Linked DNA regions of Homo sapiens. The protein of the gene in region 1 interacts with the protein of each later gene in a pairwise test. Each region holds a gene or a part of one and is shown in the gene's direction. Other genes may lie near its edges.

What was found. Proteins that work in one complex are often made in the same cells at the same time.
Region 2: the proteins of NEK7 (region 1) and RAP1B interact in binary tests that used the Homo sapiens proteins (3 or more experiments, as listed by UniProt).
Region 3: the proteins of NEK7 (region 1) and NFATC2IP interact in binary tests that used the Homo sapiens proteins (3 or more experiments, as listed by UniProt).
Region 4: the proteins of NEK7 (region 1) and SPRED2 interact in binary tests that used the Homo sapiens proteins (3 or more experiments, as listed by UniProt).

What each region holds. Positions count from the first base shown.
Region 1 is NC_000001.11:198,159,203-198,164,658, forward strand, and holds part of NEK7 (serine/threonine-protein kinase Nek7), read left to right. Parts: intron 1-5,456. UniProt on the Homo sapiens protein: Protein kinase which plays an important role in mitotic cell cycle progression. Required for microtubule nucleation activity of the centrosome, robust mitotic spindle formation and cytokinesis.
Region 2 is NC_000012.12:68,668,955-68,673,038, forward strand, and holds the end of RAP1B (ras-related protein Rap-1b isoform 1 precursor), read left to right. Parts: 3' UTR 1-2,947; downstream 2,948-4,084. UniProt on the Homo sapiens protein: GTP-binding protein that possesses intrinsic GTPase activity. Contributes to the polarizing activity of KRIT1 and CDH5 in the establishment and maintenance of correct endothelial cell polarity and vascular lumen.
Region 3 is NC_000016.10:28,956,493-28,961,573, forward strand, and holds part of NFATC2IP (NFATC2-interacting protein), read left to right. Parts: intron 1-2,090; exon of another isoform or gene 2,091-2,169; intron 2,170-2,224; coding exon 2,225-2,369; intron 2,370-2,498; coding exon 2,499-2,608; intron 2,609-5,081. UniProt on the Homo sapiens protein: In T-helper 2 (Th2) cells, regulates the magnitude of NFAT-driven transcription of a specific subset of cytokine genes, including IL3, IL4, IL5 and IL13, but not IL2.
Region 4 is NC_000002.12:65,334,463-65,339,543, reverse strand, and holds part of SPRED2 (sprouty-related, EVH1 domain-containing protein 2), read left to right. Parts: intron 1-4,770; coding exon 4,771-4,939; intron 4,940-4,956; exon of another isoform or gene 4,957-5,081. UniProt on the Homo sapiens protein: Negatively regulates Ras signaling pathways and downstream activation of MAP kinases. Recruits and translocates NF1 to the cell membrane, thereby enabling NF1-dependent hydrolysis of active GTP-bound Ras to inactive GDP-bound Ras.

The sequences.
Region 1 (5,456 bases):
CTACTCCAGCCCTGGGCTCGGAGAAGGCCGCGTTAGTTCTTTTTCTAGGGATGTCTGCGGAAGGGGCGCCAGGCTGAGGGCCAGCCTGGAGAAAGAAAGAAAGGAAGGAAGGAAGGAAGGAGGAGGGGGGCTTCAGTTTTCCCTGAGCCATCCTAGGTGTCCCGTTTCGTGATTCAGCTGCACCTAGAACTTAACTACTACTGAAAGTTTATAGTAGATTAGAAGCGAAGTTGGTCAGCAGACTAAATATAGTCCATGTGACTGAGGCGGGTTTTACTCTGAAATTACCTGAAAATGAAAACCACTAAATGTCAGAATCTAAATCGTTAGGCGTTTTCACAACTTCTTGGGAATCTTTCCATGGTTAAAAATCTTACCAATTTAACAAGACTAACTTTATTTCTAAGCGTACAGACTCATTTTATAGTCTGAACTAGTATTTAGGTTTATTTATTTAGATAATACATGTAGCACCCACCATTGCTTTCCCCCTTTCATATTTTCCTGTCTGGACAATTTCGAGTTCATTTCCATCCCAGTAAAACAGCACTTACCCAAAGAATGAGGAAAGCACATATGGTATGATGGCAGTGTACTAGTAGAGGAGGGGAGATTTGATGCCTCTATAGCTAACATACCTGATTAATAAATTTAAAAAAAAATTGCATCGTAATGACCAGAAGTCCAGTGCAGTTACAGTTTGTGTAAATAAGTACTTAATCTCATAAGGACCTCATGCCCCAAATCTTTCCTGGTGCTTGCAGTTGATAGTTTTGGGCTCTGACTTACTGTAAACATTTAAGTATTCTTTTTTTTTCCCCTCAATTATTGCGCATTTACTGAAATATAGACTTCTTTTTTTCACTTAAATATGTGGTCTGAGATATCATTAGAGACTTTTACAGTGTTTCCAGAACTAAACACTATTTTCCTAGGAACTATCTGATGTTTTAAGAATGTACCTCTGTAGTATTACAAATGTCGCCACCATTCAGGGTACCTGAGAACTGGGCCTGAGAGCAGGGCCCAGTTAAGTGTTAGTGATTACGCACTTTTGGGGAAAAAAAAAGTAGGTAATTCCAAAATTTCTTTCAGGTTTTGTTTCCCTTGATTTTTTTTTTTTTTTAAATAGGCTTTGGTATTTTAAAAATGCACAGTGTAGTATTTAAAAAATACACAGTGTAGCTGCAGCTGCAGCTGCACAAAACAGCACTCTGTCCTCATTCCCGGTTTCATTCACATTTAAGTGTTTACCCCTTCGAATTTTTGTTGGAAAACTACGAGGGTAGGTATTTCAGTGCATCGTCTATAAAACATATTAAACTTAATGTACGACTTAAGGGTGTCTTGGAAATGCCATGTATGATTACTGTTTGCTCCGAATTGTTTTATCAGCACTTCATCAGGATTTATGTAAATATATAGCAAGATGTTTTAAGACGCATTTCTTTACCCTTTTGAGACTTTTTCAATTTAATTCTCCCCCCTCCACCCATTTTTGTAGGGAATATGGATGAATAACATTTGGTTACATAATTGTAATCAAATATATGCATTTGTATAATATAATGGCAGTTCAGAATTTTTAAATTGATACAATTCAATCTCAGAGTTATAAAACTTCTAAACTGCTGAATTCTCCTTTGGTAATTAATAGTTTGATTATTCCTAGGTGTTGTGTATTTTCACAAAATTTTTTTTATTCTGAAGAAAACACTTACAGAGTATATTTCATGCTTTTCAGTGGGCAGTGGGAATGAGAAGGACAGATGATCATGAAGCATTCCTTAATATTTTTGAGCAGGATAACTTCTTTTTTAACCTTTGTCAAAATAACTGCCCTGCCATACTATTTAGGTAATGAGGTTATACAATGAGTGGTTTTGTTGTAATAGCTATCAAAGTGTTAAGCGGAACAATATATAAATGAATAAAACTGATTTTAGTGGTCTATAAAAATTGAGAAATACGTGTTTTCTGTTACATAATGGAAATAGGCCTTTTTGTAAATCTTATTAGTAGTCTTCTGTTGGTAGTGGGTAAGGGCTACTTTTTCAATCCAGTCTGCTTTTTTATAGAATAGTGATTCACAATTTTTTTCTCTGAAGGATCACATGGTAAATATTTCTGGCTTTGTGAGCCCTGTGATTGCATCTGCTGCCATTGTAGCCAAATACAGTATCTGACCAAGTGGGCATAGGTGTGTTCAAATAAAGCTTTATTTATACAAATAGGTTGGTAGCTTTCCCCCACTCTAGAAAATAATACCAGAGGTCTAAATGTGGTGCTATGCCATTGATGTTTGGGTTGATTCGGAATTTTCCACAACAGCGTTTTATAATTATTTTTGTGCTTAGACTCTTGTGACAATTTGTTGATCTTCCACAGTTCCCTCAGAATAATACCCAGCTGTCCATTCCCAAATTTTGTGTTTCATTTCAGAGTTTGTCAGCATAAGAACCTCTTTTAGGTTTATCCATGTTTTCAGGTTTCTTCACCATTCTTTGCTTCTGGAGGATCCCACTCCTATCCTGTGACATTGAATGAATGCCTGTCTGTGGCTCCCTGCTTCTGACTAAAGCGACATAGAATCTAATGTCAGTCATTTGTCTTTACTAAATGAAAACTACTAGACAAAGAAACATACCAAAACTTACTCATATGTTTCTTTGTCTAGTAGTTTTTATTTTAAGCCTACTGGTATGACTACCTTTGTCTACTTTAGAGGGAATTTTTGACATAAGCAAGGGGTTGGGCAAATTTTTTTCTTTTTAGGAAACATTAACTTAGTCTTTCAAAAAAGACTCTCCCCCGCCCCAGTAAAAAATATTGGAAAGAGCCTGTGCTTTAGCAGAGGGCCTACAGTCAAGGTATGTTTGGCCTGGGGTAGAGGTACTTCTGACCTTTGCTCTGAAAAGAATTAGCTGTAGACTTACCTGGGTGTAGCTACTGAGTAGCATAGAGCAGAATGGAAAATGCAACAGCTTTGTGAAAAAATTACACAGTACACTTTCTCAGCTCTAGTCAGGAGTGGGTTTTGTGTGTGCTGGACTTTTGACCCCTTAGCCCTCGGGGAAGCCCAGGTAGGACCTGGGACAATCAGAATTCCTGGCTAGTTGCCACCAGCTACAAGCAGTCTCTTCTCTTTATCTGACCCTGCTGCACATATATTATCATTATCTGTGTTTACCATGATGTGGAAAAGACTAGGCAGAAAACTCCAGGGTTGTCATTGCCTACTTTATGACCTTGGTTGAGTTGCTCATTTTATTCAGACTGTAGTTGTCGCAACTCATAAAGTTGCCTTGAGGAGTAAATGAAAATACCTTTGTAAATGTATGGTAGCAGGCCCAGTGTTAGTTTCATTTCACTTACTTCTCTATTCTTAGGACCTTCAGGGGTGGGAAACACATCTCCTGTTGTCAGTTTGTTCTGATGACAGGCCCTGTCACCCACTCTGCCTTGGCCCAGTTTTGTCTTAATGGGCTGCTTCCCACTTCTGCCATTTCCACTTCCTCTGCTTGAATTCTCCTTTTCCTTTGCCCTGTGATTTCCATATTCAAAATTTAATGGTTCCTACATTTGAGTTAGTTTTTATGACTTTCTTTGGAGTGTGGGGAGAGCCAGCAAGCCATAGTTTCTCAGGCAGAAAAAGGCACAAGAGGCTTGGGGGGTTATATTATGGACTACAAATAATGTGAGTTGCAAAAAGATCTTTAAATACAGATTCAAAAAATTGGCAAAATTAAAAATGTTCTTCCTAGCATGCTTAAAATTGTTTTTTTAAATTGTTGAAATATTTCCCCTATATCCTTATATTTACCTAGGTGAATTACTATACATTTTATTATGGTTATAATCATAACAAAGACATATGTCCTTATATTATGGTTGGAAAAGTTGAATAGATGTGTTTATGAAAAATTGTTATACTTCTAAAATGTAATGAATTCCTAATCTTGTATTGCCTTTATATCTAACTGCTGGACCATATAGTAAAGTGATATGATACCGGCACAGTGGCTCATACTTGTAGTCTCAGCACTTTGGGAGGCCAAGGTGGGAAGATTGCTTGAGACCTGGAGTTCAAGACCAGCCTGATCAATATAGTGAGACCCTGTCACTACAAAAAATTTAAAAAAAATTAGTTGGGCTTGGTGGCACGCACCTGTAATCCCAGCTACTTGGGAGGCTAAGGCAGGAGGATTGCTTGGGCCTGGAGGATGGCTTGAGTCTAGGATTTCGAGGCTGCAGTGAGCTGTGATGATGCCACCGCACTCCCACCTGGTGACAGAGTGAGACCCTGTCTCTAAAAAAAATAAAAAAAAAATTAAAAAAAGAGACACCTAGAATAGGTCATTTGTTTTATGCAAATAGTATATCTTTATTCCAAACAGTTTATTTCTAGGTGTGGTTTGTTAGTCAATAAATACATGTAAATTGAAAGGTCTTATATAAGAAGATTTTTCTGGGGGGAGGATTGGTTTATGGAACGAATTATTTCTTATTTTTCATGGCAACCTACAAATTGACTTCCTTTGTTCTCATCACCGTCTTTGTTGTTAGAATATGTTTAGAGTAGTCTGGTGGTAGGTGTGGTATTCAGTGAAAACTGACATTTTTTTCCATTTTCAAAATGCATTTAAAATAAAGTTTTAATAATGTATTTACTGTTAAGAAATATTTTTTATTGTTGAATGACATATTGTTTTCACCTTCACTTTTATGGCTTTGAGTATTTACAATATCAGCTGTTGGCTGGGCACTGTGGCTCACACCTGTAATCCCAGCGCTTTGGAGGCCGAGGCTGAGCAGACTGCTTGAGCCCAGGAGTTTGAGACCAGCCTTGGAAACATGACAAAACCCCATCTTTACTAAAAATGCAACAACAACAACAACAACAAAAAATCAGCTGTCAGTAAAGATTGTCTTTAGTTACATAGTTCTCCCGTTTACTCCTCTAATCACTTTTTTTAAGTGGAAAGGAATTTGTTACTGAACATTTAATAGTATTTAATGGTTGTGAGGGAGTTTGAGCTTCCAGCAGAATGTCCCAGTACCAGGCCCCCAAGGGAGTTTCTGCCTCTTCTGTGATCAGAAGTCCACCGGTCTAGGGCCATACAGCCACTGCTCTGGTCAAGACACAGTTACAGTAAGAAAAATCCTGCTATTTGGGGGACCCTAGAACCATACCCTGCCTATTGTGGTCCAGGAAACAATGCTGTGGGCCCTAGCTCTATACAGGCATTATTCAGAGATATTGCAGGTTCTAGTCTAGACCACTGCAATAAAGTGAATCTTGCAATAAAGCGAGTCAGATGAATCTTTTGGTTTCCAAGTGCATATGGGAGTTAGAGTTACACTATACTGTAGTCTATACAGTGTGCAATAGCATTATGTCTAAAAAATATACATAATTAAAAAATATTTTATTGCCAAAAAATGCTAACGATCAT
Region 2 (4,084 bases), on another chromosome or scaffold:
TCCTAATAGAGCTAATGAATGCATTATATCAAAAGAATGAAATGTTAAATATAGACACTGGAAAATAAAATTACTTTTGCTTGTATTATAAGTGAATACCTTGAAAGCTCAAAAAAATCTATTAGAAGTATTCAGGAACTTGGCTGGATATAAGATAAGCATGCCAAAAATCAATAGCTTTTCTTTATATTTATAAAAAATACCTACAAGTTGATATAGTAAACACGACAGATAAAAACTAAATGCCTTAAGGTATAAGGCTAAGAAAGAACTATTATAAACTCTTATTGAAGGACATAAATCAAGATCTGAACAAATACACTGGGAAGATAATATCATAAAAATATCAATTCCCCCAAATTAGCATGTTAATGTATAATGATTACAATTTAAATTTCAACTGGCTGAGGCTTTGTTTTTGTTTTTGATTTTTTAATAGACTGGATGTTGGTCTTGAACTCCTGGGCTCAAGCAAGTGTCACACCTTGGCCTCCCAAAGTGGATTATAGGCATGAGCCACCGTGCCAGACTTGGGTGAGGTTTTGAAATTGAAATTAAGCAAAATGGGCCGGGCACGGTGGCTCACACCTGTAATCCCAGCACTTTCGGAGGCCGAGGGGGGCGGATCACGAGGTCAGGAGATGGAGACCATCCTGGCTAACATGGTGAAACCCCGTCTCTACTAAAAATACAAAAATTAGCCAGGCATGGTGGCAGGTGCCTGTAATCCCAGCTACTCTGGAGGCTGAGGCAGGAGAATCGCTTGAACCCAGGAGGCAGAGGGTGCAGTAGCTGAGATTGTACCACTGCACTCCAGCCTGGGTGACAGAGCAAATCTCTATCTCAAGAAAAAGAAAAAAGAAAAGAAATTAAGCAAAATGATCTTAAAGTTCAAGTGAAAGAGTAGAGTAGAACTGAGTCCAGAACTAGATTCCAGTATATGACGTTTATACGTGACAAAAATATATTTCTTTTTCTTTCTTTTTTTTTTTTTTTTTTTTGAGACAGTTTCCCTCTTGTTGCCCAGACTGGAGTATAATGGCACGATCTTGGTTCACCACAACCTCCGCCTCCCAGGTTCAAGTGATTCTCCTGCCTCAGCCTCCCGAGTAGCTGGGATTACAGGCATGTGCCACCACGCCTGGGCTAATTTTGTATTTTAGTAGAGATGGGGTTTCTCCATGTTGGTCAGGCTAGTTGCGAACTCCCAACCTCAGGTCATCTGCCCGCCTCAGCCTCCCAAAGTACTGGGATTACAGGTGTGAGCCACTGTGCCCGGCCGACAAAAATATATTTCAATAGAAAATAGTATCAGTAAAATGCTAGCACAACTAACTATCTGTCTAAAGACAATAAAAGTTCAACCCCTATATCATGCAAAAAGCACTTTCCAGATATATTAAAATGTTTTCAAGCTATAAAGTAAAACAGTAGAAGTCTTAGAAGAAAATCTAAGAGACTAGAAATCTAGAGATAGGGTAGACCTTCTTAGCTAATTTTTAAAAATGAAGCTATATTTAAGATATATATTTCAAGTAAATAATAAGTGTGTGTGTGTGTACACACAGATGCTTCTCAGCTTACAATGGGGTTATGTCCCAATAAGCCCATCAGAAGTCAAAAATGTAAGTCGAAAATGCATTTAATACCCTGATAAATCCATCACAAAGCTGAAAAATTATAAGTAAAACTGTAAGTCACAGACTGTATATATAAATTTAAAATTTGGCAAAATATATTGCAAAGTCAAATTTGGGAAAGTATAGCACAGATAAAAGATTAAACTATTCACGGCCAGGCACGGTGGATCATGCCTGTAATCCCAACACTTTGGGAGGCCGAGGCGGGTGGATCACCTGAGGTCAGGAGTTTGAGACTAGCCTGGCCAACGTGGAGAAACCCCATCTCTACTAAAAATACAAAATTAGCTGGGTGTGGTGGTGCATGCCTGTAATCCTAGCTACTCAGGAGGCTGAGGCAGGAGAATTGCTTGAACCTAGGAGGCGAAAGTTGCAGTGAGCCAAGATGGTGCCATTGCACTCCAGCCTGGGCAACAAGAGTGATACTCCGTTTAAAAAAAAAAAAAAAAAAAAAGGTAAACTATTCAAAAGATAAATGGTTGAAAGATATATAACTAGGCAGTTTAGATAAGAACAAATCCAAATGGCCCATCAACATAAAAAGATGCTCTAACTGTAGCCAGAGAAATACGAATCAAAGTACCAACGAGCCCAACACATGGACGAAAACTTCAGAGAACACTACAGTCCCAGAAGAGAGGTAAAGGGCAAGAAATGAATCATTTATTGCTGATGGAAATGTGCATTGTAGAGCTGATATCTGTTCAAATTAAATATGCATATTTGACCTCAATTCTACTACTGATATCTACACCAAGGAAATGAAAGGAAATGCACAAGATTATTTATTGCCACACTCTAGAAGGAAAAACAGAGTGCATGCCCATCAATAGAATAGTTGAATAAATTATGATTCATGCATAATATAGAACATTATGCATTCATTTAAAAATGAGTTTGATGTTTAAAGGTTGACTTAGAAGGATTCCCGTGCAAAGTGAACAAAACAGAATACCGAGAAGGATGTATGTGAGGGATGCATGTGGGCACCTGGGAAAGGAGATGAAGAAAGCAACTGAAGGATATTTACCAAGTTGTTAATATGCATTACCTGACATGGTGATATAGGAGTAGGGGTGAGGAAGTGAAGGATCTGAGTAGGTGGAAAAAGAAAAGCAAAAGTACAACAGCGGGAGAAAAAACAGGATGACTCGTCTAGAAGAGACATTGTCAGTAACAAGTAAATAACATTTTCTGGAATATAAAAAAAAAAGCTATATGAATGTCATCATTATATGTAAAATATGAATGTAAAATACATGGGAGGATAATATGCATTAATAAAAATTATGGTGCTGGCAACAGTATCATGGATGACTGTATTATTATTTCCTTTTCCTTAACATTGTTATGCTATCTTTGAGTAAAATTAATTTTAGAAATTTAAAAATAATTGTCATTATACTTAAACCTTATATTTAAACAAGAAAATAATTCAAAAAACCAAAGCAGTTTAACTTTCTTTCATTACCTGAAATTCAGCCTTTTTACACAGCTAGAGAACTTCAGTTGATCTTGTGAAGGACAAAGAAGCAGAAAGACTTCTCTAGGATGTTGGGTTTCCTAAAAGTTAAACTCAATCATTTAAAGTTGCAAATAGGTAGGCAGGATGGATTCTGAAGCACAGATTTCCCAAATGCCCTTTTTGCAGCAGATTCAGCTTCTAAACAAGTTTCAAGGGCAATGTTCATGATAGACGCAACTTTTTCTTAACATTATATTGCATTGTCAATATGTATTCCATCATTTTATGCTTTTCAATGCACTTCCATTTATAAAAGCCGCATAGTTTGCTCTTATATGCCAATATGTTTGTAGCTCAAAATATACTTGAAATATTTTAAGTCCGTTTGTGCTCTTGATTTATGAACTAAATATACTACATTTTCCATTGTTAAAATAACACCTTGGCTAGGTGTGGTGGCTCATGCCTATAATCCCAGTGCTTTGGGAGGCTGAGGCAAGAGGATCACTTGAGCCCAGGAGTTCAAGACCAGCCTGGGCAACATAGGGAGACTCTAGCTCTACAAAAAATTTAAAAATTAGCTGGATGCGGGGGCACATGCCTGTGGTTCCAGCCACCCAGGAGGCTGAGCCCAGGAGATCAAAGCTGCAGTGAGCCATGATCACGCCACTGTACTCCAGCCTGGGCAATAGAGCAAGACTCTGTCTCAAAAAAAAAATTAAAGACACCTTGAATATTCTGTTGTTTTTAAAGAGCAGATTCATAGGATCATAGATGCATGACGCATCTTCTTAAAGATACATTATCATAGATCCTCTAATTAGAAGATATTCACTTATAGACAAAGATATATATATATATATATATATATATATATATATAATTTTTCTTTTTTTTTGAGATAGAGTCTCGCTCTGTCACCCAGGCTGGAGTGCAATGGCGCCATCTCAGCTCACTGCAACCTCCGCCTCCCAGGTTC
Region 3 (5,081 bases), on another chromosome or scaffold:
CACTTTTTGTTTCCTCTGTCTGCATTTTCCCAACGCTCCCCTCTCTTTCTGGCAAACTTTCTACCCATTCTTCAAGGCTCCTCATAAGCATCCTGTGTCTTTTTTTTTCCTTCAAAAAGTGGTCTTACTGTGTCCAGGCTGGTTCCGAACTCCTGGGCTCAAGTGATCGTCCCTCATTGACCTCCCAAAGTGCTGGGATTCCAGGTGTGAAGCATCCTGTCTTCTAAGAAGCTTTTTTTGGTAGTCTCTCTTGCCTTCCTCCCTAGGAACCTGGGCTTCCCTCCTGGGCTTGCTCTCACTGCCCTGGACACAGCAGATGTCACTCAGTCACCCTGAACTCCACCAGCTTCCTGGCGAAGCCTGATATTTTTGTAGGGATGACCCTGTTTCAACACCAGGAATGATAACAGACATTACCATTACTGATGCACAGTGCATCAGTCAAGCAACTAAGGCAGAGGCTGCAAACTGGCAGCCCATGGCTTTTCCAACAGTGTGTCTGCTTTCTTTGTAGACTTATTTTATTTTATTTTATTATTTTTTATTATTTTTATTTTTTGAGACGGGGTCTCACTCTGTCGCCTAGGCTGGAGTGCAGTGGCACGATCTCTGCTCACTGAAACCTCCGCCTCCCAGGTTCAGGCGATTCTCCCACCTCAGCCTCCCGAGTAGCTTGGACTACAGGTGCCCGCCACCATGCCCGACTAATTTATGTATTTTTAGTGGAGGCAGGGCTTCACCATATTGGCCAGGCTGGTCTTGAACTCCTGATCTCAAGTGTTCCCCTGTCTCAGCTTCCCAAAGTGTTGGGATTACAGGCATGAGCCACCGTGCCTGGCCTATTTTATTTTTTAAACATAGAGATGGGGGCCAGGCATGGTGGCTCATTCCTGTAATCCCAGCACTTTGGGAGGCCAAGGTGAGAGGATCACTTGAGGCCAGGAGTTCGAGACCAGCCTGGGCAAAATAGTGAGACCTTGTCTCTACTAAAAATAAAAAAATTAACCAGGCATGGTGGCACATACCTGTAGTCCCAGCGACTTGGGAGGCTGATGCAAGAGGATCTTCTGAGTCCAGGAGTTGGGGGCTGCAGTCAGCTGTGATCATGCCACTGCACTGCAGCCTGGGTGAGAGAGCAAGACCTTGTCTCTTAAAAAAAAAAAAAAATGGAGATGGGATCTTGCTTTGTTGCTCAGGCTGATCTTGAACTCCTGACCTCAAGCAAACCTCCCGCCTCGGCCTCTCAAAATGCTGGGATTATAGGTGTGAGCCATCATGCCTGACCAAGTGCTTTAAAAATATACGAGTTTGTTGTCACCTTTGTGATGGGTGATTTCATACAAAGGTCCAGATTTCTGGCCGGGTGCAGTGCCTCACGCCTGTAATCCCAGCACTTTTGGGAGGTGAAGGCAGGCAGATCACCTGAGGTCAGGAGTTCGAGACCAGCCTAGCCAACATGGTGAAACCCCATCTCTACTAAAAATACAAAAATTAGCTGGGCATGGTGCCACTGCCTTCCAGCCTGGATGAAAGAGCGAGACTCTGCCTCAGATCTCACCTGAGATCAGGAGTTCAAGACCAGCCTGGCCAATATGGTGAAGCCCGCCTCTACTAAAAATAGAAAGAAAAAAAAAAGGTCCAGATTTCTGGCTTCTCTTAAAAAATAAGAAGATGTGGCCAGGTGCGGTGGCTCACACCTGTTATCCCTGTAGTTTGGGAGGCCGAGGCAGGTGGATCACCCGAATTCAAGAGTTCAAGACCAGCCTGGTAGGAGAATCACTTGAACCTGGGAGGCGGAGGTTGCAGTGAGCTGAGATTGCGCCACTACACTCCATCCTGGTTAACAAGAGCGAAACTCCGTCTCAAAAAAAAAAAAAAGAAAAATATAGGAAGATGTCATACTGGCCCACGTTCCCACACAGTGCCAATCAGCTGGAGCTGCGTAACAGCCAGCCTGTCTAGGTGGCATGTGAATTCCAGTTTGCTGCAATCCCCACCACCCCTTTCTTTGTTCTAACCCATGGCTGCTATATTTCTTTGTGTTACTCGCCTGTACCCCTTGCTGACACGATTTTATTCTATACCTTGCCAGGTAAATATGATGAAACTCACAGCTGAGGAGCTTAGCAAGTAGCTAAGGCCAGAGCTTGTGTTTGGGTGGTGTGGCTGGGGGCATGGATTTCAAGGCAGGAAGACCTCTTTTGCTTGTTGTCCCCATCCCTAGTCGGAGCCCCTGCAGAGTGTGGTGGACCACATGGCCACCCACCTTGGGGTGTCCCCAAGCAGGATCCTTTTGCTTTTTGGAGAGACAGAGCTATCACCTACTGCCACTCCCAGGACCCTAAAGCTCGGAGTGGCTGACATCATTGGTGAGAGGAAGGCAGGGAGGTGGGGCCTTGAGGCATTTGCCAGGGGAAGGGGATATGGGGAGAGGTTCAGCACGGGCCCTGCTTCCAAGCCCCCACTTAGCCCTGGCTTCCTGATTCTGCCTCCCACAGACTGTGTGGTACTAACAAGTTCTCCAGAGGCCACAGAGACGTCCCAACAGCTCCAGCTCCGGGTGCAGGGAAAGGAGAAACACCAGACACTGGAAGTCTCACTGTCTCGAGTGAGTGGGAGAGATGGCTCTCCACGCCCCTCACCCTGTCCTCTGCTGCCTCTTGTCTCTCTTGTCAGTTAATGGAGGATGGATTCCCCTAATCTTGACTTGCAGGAGACACTGCCCTCCATGTTCTTGGGTTCCCAGCCATCCTAGGTAGTGGGAAAACCCATCGTTCAACTTCCCTCCCCGCTTCTACTGGTACCCTCTGCCCTAGTCTGGGTGCTCCCTCGGTCTCCTGACTCCTTCTGATTAAAACAGAAAGGACCCTTAGACGGTAATCAATAAAACCCATCAAAATAACAATGAAGGCCACACGGCTAAGTGCTAGTCCCCGTGCTGAGGATAATTTCCTCACATTCAGGATCTTATTTAATTTCACAACAATCTGATGTGGGCCACAAAGCACTGTTGTTATCCTCATTTGGCAATAAGAAGATTGAGTTCTAGAGAGGTGGAATAAGCAACTTGGTGCAGTCATTTTTTTTTTTTTTTTTTTTTTGAGATAGAGTCTCGCCCTGTCGCCCAGGCTGAAGTCTGGCATGATCTTGGCTCACTGCAGCCTCTGCCTTCCGAGTTTCAAGTGATTCTCTTTCCTCAGCCTCCCGTGTAGCTGGGATTACAGGTGCACGTGCTGGGCTAATTTTTGCATTTTTAGTAGAGACAGGGTTTCACCATGTTGGCCAGGCTGGTCTCAAACTCCTGACCTCAAGTGAGCCACCCACCTTGGCCTCCCAAAGTGTTGGGATTACAGGTGTGAGCCACCGCGCCTGGCCTGCTGCATTCATTTCTTAAGTCTACTGTTAACGAAATACACAAATTGGGTGGCTTAAAACAATAGAAACCTATTCCTGTACACTTCTGGAGCCTAGAAGTCTGAATTGAAGGTGTTGGCAGGGCCTGGTTCCGTCTGAGAATCTGAGTGGAAACCTTCCTTACCTCTTTCTAGCTTCTGCTGGTGGCCAGAGTTCCTTGGCTTGCAGCTGTGTCACTCCAGTCTCTCCCTCTGTGATCACACGGTGTTCTCCATGTGTCTCTGTCTGTGTTCGTCTCTCTTCTTGGAAAGACATAGGTCATGTTGGGCTAGCCCCACTCTAACCAAGCACAACCTCATCTCAACTTGATTATATCTGCAAAGTCCCTACTTTAAATAAGGTTACATTCACATTTACTAGGGGTTAGGACCACAAAGTGCCTTTTCAGGGGAATACAGTTCAACCCTTAACACACTGTTCTCTAGCCCCCACCAAATTCATGGCCTTCCCATCTGCAAAATATATACATCCCATTCCAATATCCCTACAAGTCTTAACCCATCCCAGCATCAACTCTTAAGCCCAAAATCTCATTTAAATATAATCAACTCAAGAAGTCCCAATCTTATTTTCTAAATCATTAAATCAGTTTTGGATGAGACTTGGTATGGTCCATTCTGGGACAAAATTCCTCTCTCTCTCTCTCTGCGGACCCGTGAAATCTAGAAAATAAGTTATTTGCTTCTAAAATACAGTGATGGGACAGACATAGGATAGACATTCCCATTTCAAAAGTGAGAAATTGGGCCAGGTGCAGTGGCTCACACCTGTAACCCCAGCACCTGTAATCCTAGCTCCCCAGGCGGCTGAGGCAGGAGGATTGCTTGAGCCTGGGAGATCAAGGTTGTAGTGAGCCATGATTGCGCCACCTTTATTGGAAACTTTTATTCCAGTTACCAATAACACATTCCTCATTTCCTCCAGAGACCTCACCAGAAACACCTTTAATATTCATATTTCTAGCAGCCTTCTGTTCATAACAATATATGCATCCTGTTAAGATGATAGGAGATTTCTCTGCACCTCTCCTCTTTGTGAGCCTGCAGGGACATTCCCTTTAATGTCCATATTTCTACCAGCAGTCTCTTCAAGGCAGTCTAGGTTTTTCCTAACATACACCTCAAAATTCTTGCAGCTTTGGCCAGGCACAGTGCCTCACATCTGTAATCCTAACACTTTGAGAGGCCAACATGGACAGATTGCTTGAGCTCAGGAGTTCAAGACCAGCCCGGGCAACATAGTGAAACCCTGCCTCTACAAAAAATACAAAAATTAGCCCAGCATGCTGGCGCAGGCCTATAGTTCCAGCTACCCAGGAGGCTGAGGTGTGAGGATCGCTTGTGCCTAGGAGATTGAGGCTGCAGTGAGCTGAGATTGGGCCACTGCACTCCAGCCTGGGAGACAGCAAGACCCTATCTGAAAAAAAAAAAAAAAAAAAAAAAAAAAAATTATTCCAGCCCTGATCCAATTTCAAAGCCACTGTTACATTTAACCATTTATTCCAGCAGCACCCCACTTTTGTATTTTGGCTGTTGTAACAAAGTACCACAAGTTGGGTGGCTTAAAACAACATAAATTTATTCTCTCATTGTTCTGGAGGGTAGAAGTCTGAAATCAAGGTGTTAGCAGAGCAAGTGTCTCTGAAGATATGGGGGAAGAAAACAAAC
Region 4 (5,081 bases), on another chromosome or scaffold:
ACTCTTAACGAGCATGCTGCCTTCAAGCATCTGTTTAACAAAGCACATCTTGCACCGCCCTTAATCCATTTAACCCTGAGTGGACACAGCACATGTTTCAGAGAGCACAGGGTTGGGGGTAAGGTCATAGATCAACAGGATCCCAAGGCAGAAGAATTTTTCTTGGTACAAAACAAAATGAAAAGTCGCCCATGTCTACTTCTTTCTACACAGACACGGCAACCATCCGATTTCTCAATCCTTTCCCCACCCTGCCCCCCCTTCCATTCCAGAAAACCGCCATCGTCATCATGGCCCATTCTCAATGAGCTGTTGGGCACACCTCCCAGACGGGGTGGTGGCTGGGCAGAGGGGCTCCCCACCTCCCAGTAGGGGCGGCCGGGCAGAGGCGCCCCTCAGCTCCTGGACCGGGCGGCTGGCCGGGAGGGGGCGCTGACCCCCCGCCCAACCTCCCTCCCGGACGGAGCGGCTGGCCCGGCGGGGGGCTGAGCCCCCCACCTCCCTCCCGGACGGGGCGGCTGGCCGGCCAGAGGGGCTCCTCACTTCCCAGTAGGGGCCGCCGGGCAGAGGCGCCCCTCACCTCCCGGACGGGGCGGCGGGGCAGAGGCGCTCCCCACATCTCAGACGATGGGCTGCCGGGCAGAGACGCTCCTCACTTCCTAGATGGGATGGCGGCCGGGAGGAGGCGCTCCTCACTTCCCAGGTGGGATGGCGGCCGGGCAGAGACGCTCCTCACTTTCCAGACTGGGCAGCCAGGCAGAGGGGCTCCTCACATCCCAGACGATGGGCAGCCAGGCAGAGACGCTCCTCACTTCCCAGACGGGGTGGCGGCCGGGCAGAGGCTGCAATCTCCGCACTTTGGGGGGCCAAGGCAGGCGGCTGGGAGGTGGAGGCCGTAGCGAGCCGAGATCACGCCACTGCACTCCAGCCTGGGCACCATTGAGCACTGAGTGAATGAGACTCCGTCTGCAATCCCGGCACCTCGGGAGGCCGAGGCTGGCGGATCACTCGCGGCTAGGAGCTGGAGACCAGTCCGGCCAACACAGCGAAACCCCGTCCCCACCAAAAAAACACAAAAACCAGTCAGGCGTGGCGGCGCGCGCCTGCAATCGCAGGCACTCGGCAGGCTGAGGCAGGAGAATCAGGCAGGGAGGCTGCAGCGAGCCGAGATGGCAGCAGTACAGTCCAGCTTTGGCCCGGCATGAGAGGGAGACCGTGGAAAGGAGAGGGAGAGGGAGACGGGAGAGGGAGAGGGAGACGGGAGAGGGAGAGGGAGACGGGAGAGGGAGAGGGAGACGGGAGAGGGAGACGGGAGAGGGAGAGGGAGACGGGAGAGGGAGAGGGAGACGGGAGAGGGAGAGGGAGACGGGAGACGGGAGAGGGAGACGGGAGAGGGAGAGGGACTCTTTCACTTTCAATAGATCTCTTACTCATCCCTGATTTTGTAACATCATGCACTGGTCACCTGAAAAATAGTGCTCCACTGAGTTAAGCAGATCTTCCAAATGTTGATACATTTTATTCTATAATATCAAAAAACTACATTTCTTAGTATTGCCACTAACTCATTAATATAAAAAAACTACATTTCTTAATATCGCCACTGACTCATTAATATCAAAAAAACTACATTTTTTAATATTGCCACTGACTCATTAGAAAAGTCTTTAAGTACCAGGAAGCTGTCTAGAATTCTAATTTATACTTCAAATATAGATAAGGATGTAAATTGCAGCATTGCCTTCAAGGTGACCAATTCTTACTGACATAAATGTCCGTTAGTATGGAGAATGGTTGAATAAATCTAATACATCCATACAGATGAATTAAACAATTATTTTACCTTCCTGTATCTCTATGACATATTTTTAAGGAAAATAAAAAGCAAGTTAAAAACAACTTATAGGTGTGGCTACATTTAAACACAGTTGCCCTTACACAGAAACTTACCTGTGTATATGTAAAGAAGCCACAAAATGGAAACTGGGATTGTGCCCGCTCTACTGACAGTGGGGAACTCGACAGAGAGGGATGTTGACGGTGGAGGGGAGAGATGAGTAGGAATGGAGTCCTCATGTCTTCAGCTAATACTTAAATCTCCCACAACATGTATTTCTTGTGTAGTTTTTTTTTTCAAGTCTCGAACAAGAACATAATCACTTTTTTTCTCCGTATGCATCTTATTTAAACGGGTATTTTTTAAAGCCTTTCTCAAGTTTTAAGTTAGTGTCTAATTGTGTGCGTGCCAAAACTTCACCAGAGAGTTTATATCTGTTGGGAAGATTAAAGCATCTAAAACCTTTTCATTTTTGTCTTTAAACTTAGATACATATGATACTATTTTGCTTTAGAGGACATAAAGAGATGGTATCTGATTTCCCCCCTCACTTAATTTAGGTGGCTGAACTTATTTTACTCAAACTTTATTTTTTTTTTGAGACAGAGTCTTGCTCTTTCGCCCAGGCTGGACTGCAGTGGCACGATCTCGGCCCACTGCAAGCTCCGCCTCCCGGGTTCACGCTATTCTCCTGCCTCAGCCTCCCTAGTAGCTGGGACTACAGGTGCCCGCCACCATGCCCGGCTAATTTTTTGTATTTTTAGTAGAGATGAGGTTTCACCGTGTTAGCCACGATGGTCTCGATCTCCTGACCTCATGATCCGCCCGCCTCGGCCTCCCAAAGGGCTGGTATTACAGGCGTGAGCCACCGCGCCCGGCCATTTTACTTAAACTTTTCTAAGAAAATGTACCTTTGGAATAATTTCAAAGTTGGAAAATATCAACCAAAGACTAATTTTTTCACCCCCAAAATATGGAGAAACTAGGAGTCTTTGTTTTTAGAATACAAAAAGTTTATTTTGAGACTTTGAATTGAGACTATTAAATTCTAAAATAGATAACATTTGTTAAATTCTTGATTATTTGGATTTCCCCAATGTGGAATGGGGCTGGGCTGACATTTAATCATTGTGCTATTCTTAGGGGGAAATGGCTATAATAAGCAATTTAATCATAAATAGAATTATGGGAGGGAACTGTTGTCCGATCTCAATACAATGTAATAAAGTTAACTGCTTGGGACTACTATTTGATATACCAATTTGAATATTATTCTCATTTTTTTATTAAGTTAGGGAACATTCATTAGACAACCCTTAATTTATTTCTCGTTTGTTTTTTCCTTTTGTTGAGACAGAGTCTCACTCTGTCACCTGGGCTGGAGTGTAGTGGTGCACCTTCTCAGCTCACTGCAGCCTCAGCCTCCCAGGCTCAAGCGTTCCTCCCACCTCAATCTCCTGAGTAGCTGGGACTACAGATGTGTGCCACCACACCCAGCTAATTTTTGTATTTTAGTTAGAGACAGGGTCCTGCCATGTTGCCCAGGCTGGTCTCAAACTCCTGGGCTCAAGTGATCCTCTTGCCTCAGCCCCCAAAAGTGCTGGGATTACAGGCATGAGCCACTGTACTGGCCTCCTTCTTTTTGCTTTGATCTATTCTTAGAATTTATACTTATTTAAAGATATTCTCTAATTTATCTGTATACTAATTTAGGCAGGTCTTTACTCTTGTCCTTCATTTAGTCTAAATTAATAAGATCACATTGCGGTAAATGCAGATCTTTGCCAGAACAAGATTGGGCTATTAAAACTTAGCAAAATCATTATGGTGTTTGTAATGAAGCCATAGGAATAAATATTGTAAGTAGTCTGAGTTTTTTAATGAATAAAGAATGAAGTTTACGTTCAAATTATTGCAATGTTTCTTTTCTATAATATTAAATAAATTCTAGTATCTCTATCAACTGTGCTAGACGGGGTTATTTTATAATCTTGACTTTTTGTAGTCTAGTTAGGGGAACAAGACTAATACACATGAAACTGTTAAAGAATAGTTTGAAATCAGGTACTAAATTGTGAAGATGACAAGAAGGAGAATTGGAGTACATATAAAACTTGACAGGGAAGATATACTGGACAATGAATGTGAATTAGGTTTCTCATTTATTCAGTGTTTTCAGAGCATGTTCTTGTTCTCATTGATAACATTGGTGTTCTTTCCATCTTAGAGATAAAAAGATCAATCTACTCATTACAACTCAGTAAAAGCCAGTTCTGAGATTAAATTGCTAGAAACTTGAATATTGTTCTATTAATCCAAACATAAAGTTAATAGAGACCCAGATCAGGGTGGCAGCAACTGAAATGGGGTTGATATAAAAGCTGTTGAAGGAAAAATGAAATGGACCTGGTGATTAATAATACAGGAGATAGGCAGAGGAGGCAAAGATGACCACAGAGATGATGAGCCAGAGAAAAAGAGTGGAGAGGGATTGGTATTGCCAGAAGTTGGGAGAGGAGAAATTTTAGAGTAAAGTTAATTTTTCAACTTTTGGAATTTGGAGCCTCGGGGGAGGGAAGCTAGATGACCATCAATATAAAAACCCCAACATAAAAGCAGTAATCTGAAATACAGCCAAGACCCAAGACCTGAGCATCAACTTAGTGCCCTGCAGCCAGGAGGAAGAGGAATAACCGTGATGAAGAGAGTGTAGTGAAGGGGTACAACCAGGACAGTGGGGAGCAGCGAAGATCGGATGGTCAGCAGCCAAGCAAAGCCTCCTTTCCCATTGGAGAGACTCACAGATATGTGAAGGCAGGGGTTAGAGGGGTTTTGGTAGTTGCCACCAGTGATGGTTCCTAATTAGACTTCTGTAACCAGACATCATCATGGCTGTTCCACTAGTAACCAGCCTGTGTGTTTCCATCCTTCAGGTGGTATTGGAATGCTATGTAAGAAAGGACTTGGTCTACACCAAAGCCAATCCAACGTTTCATCACTGGAAGGTCGATAATAGGAAGTTTGGACTTACTTTCCAAAGCCCTGCTGATGCCCGAGCCTTTGACAGGGGAGTAAGGAAAGCAATCGAAGACCTTATAGAAGGTATTGAACTTGTCGCTGCATTCTTAGTGGGACTATGGAAATGTTCCAAATTATTTTTAATTCCAATAGTCTGCCATCATTTATTTGTGGTTTATTTGCGGGAGGGTTTGGGACCAGGTCAGTAGATGCCAAAACTTTTGGA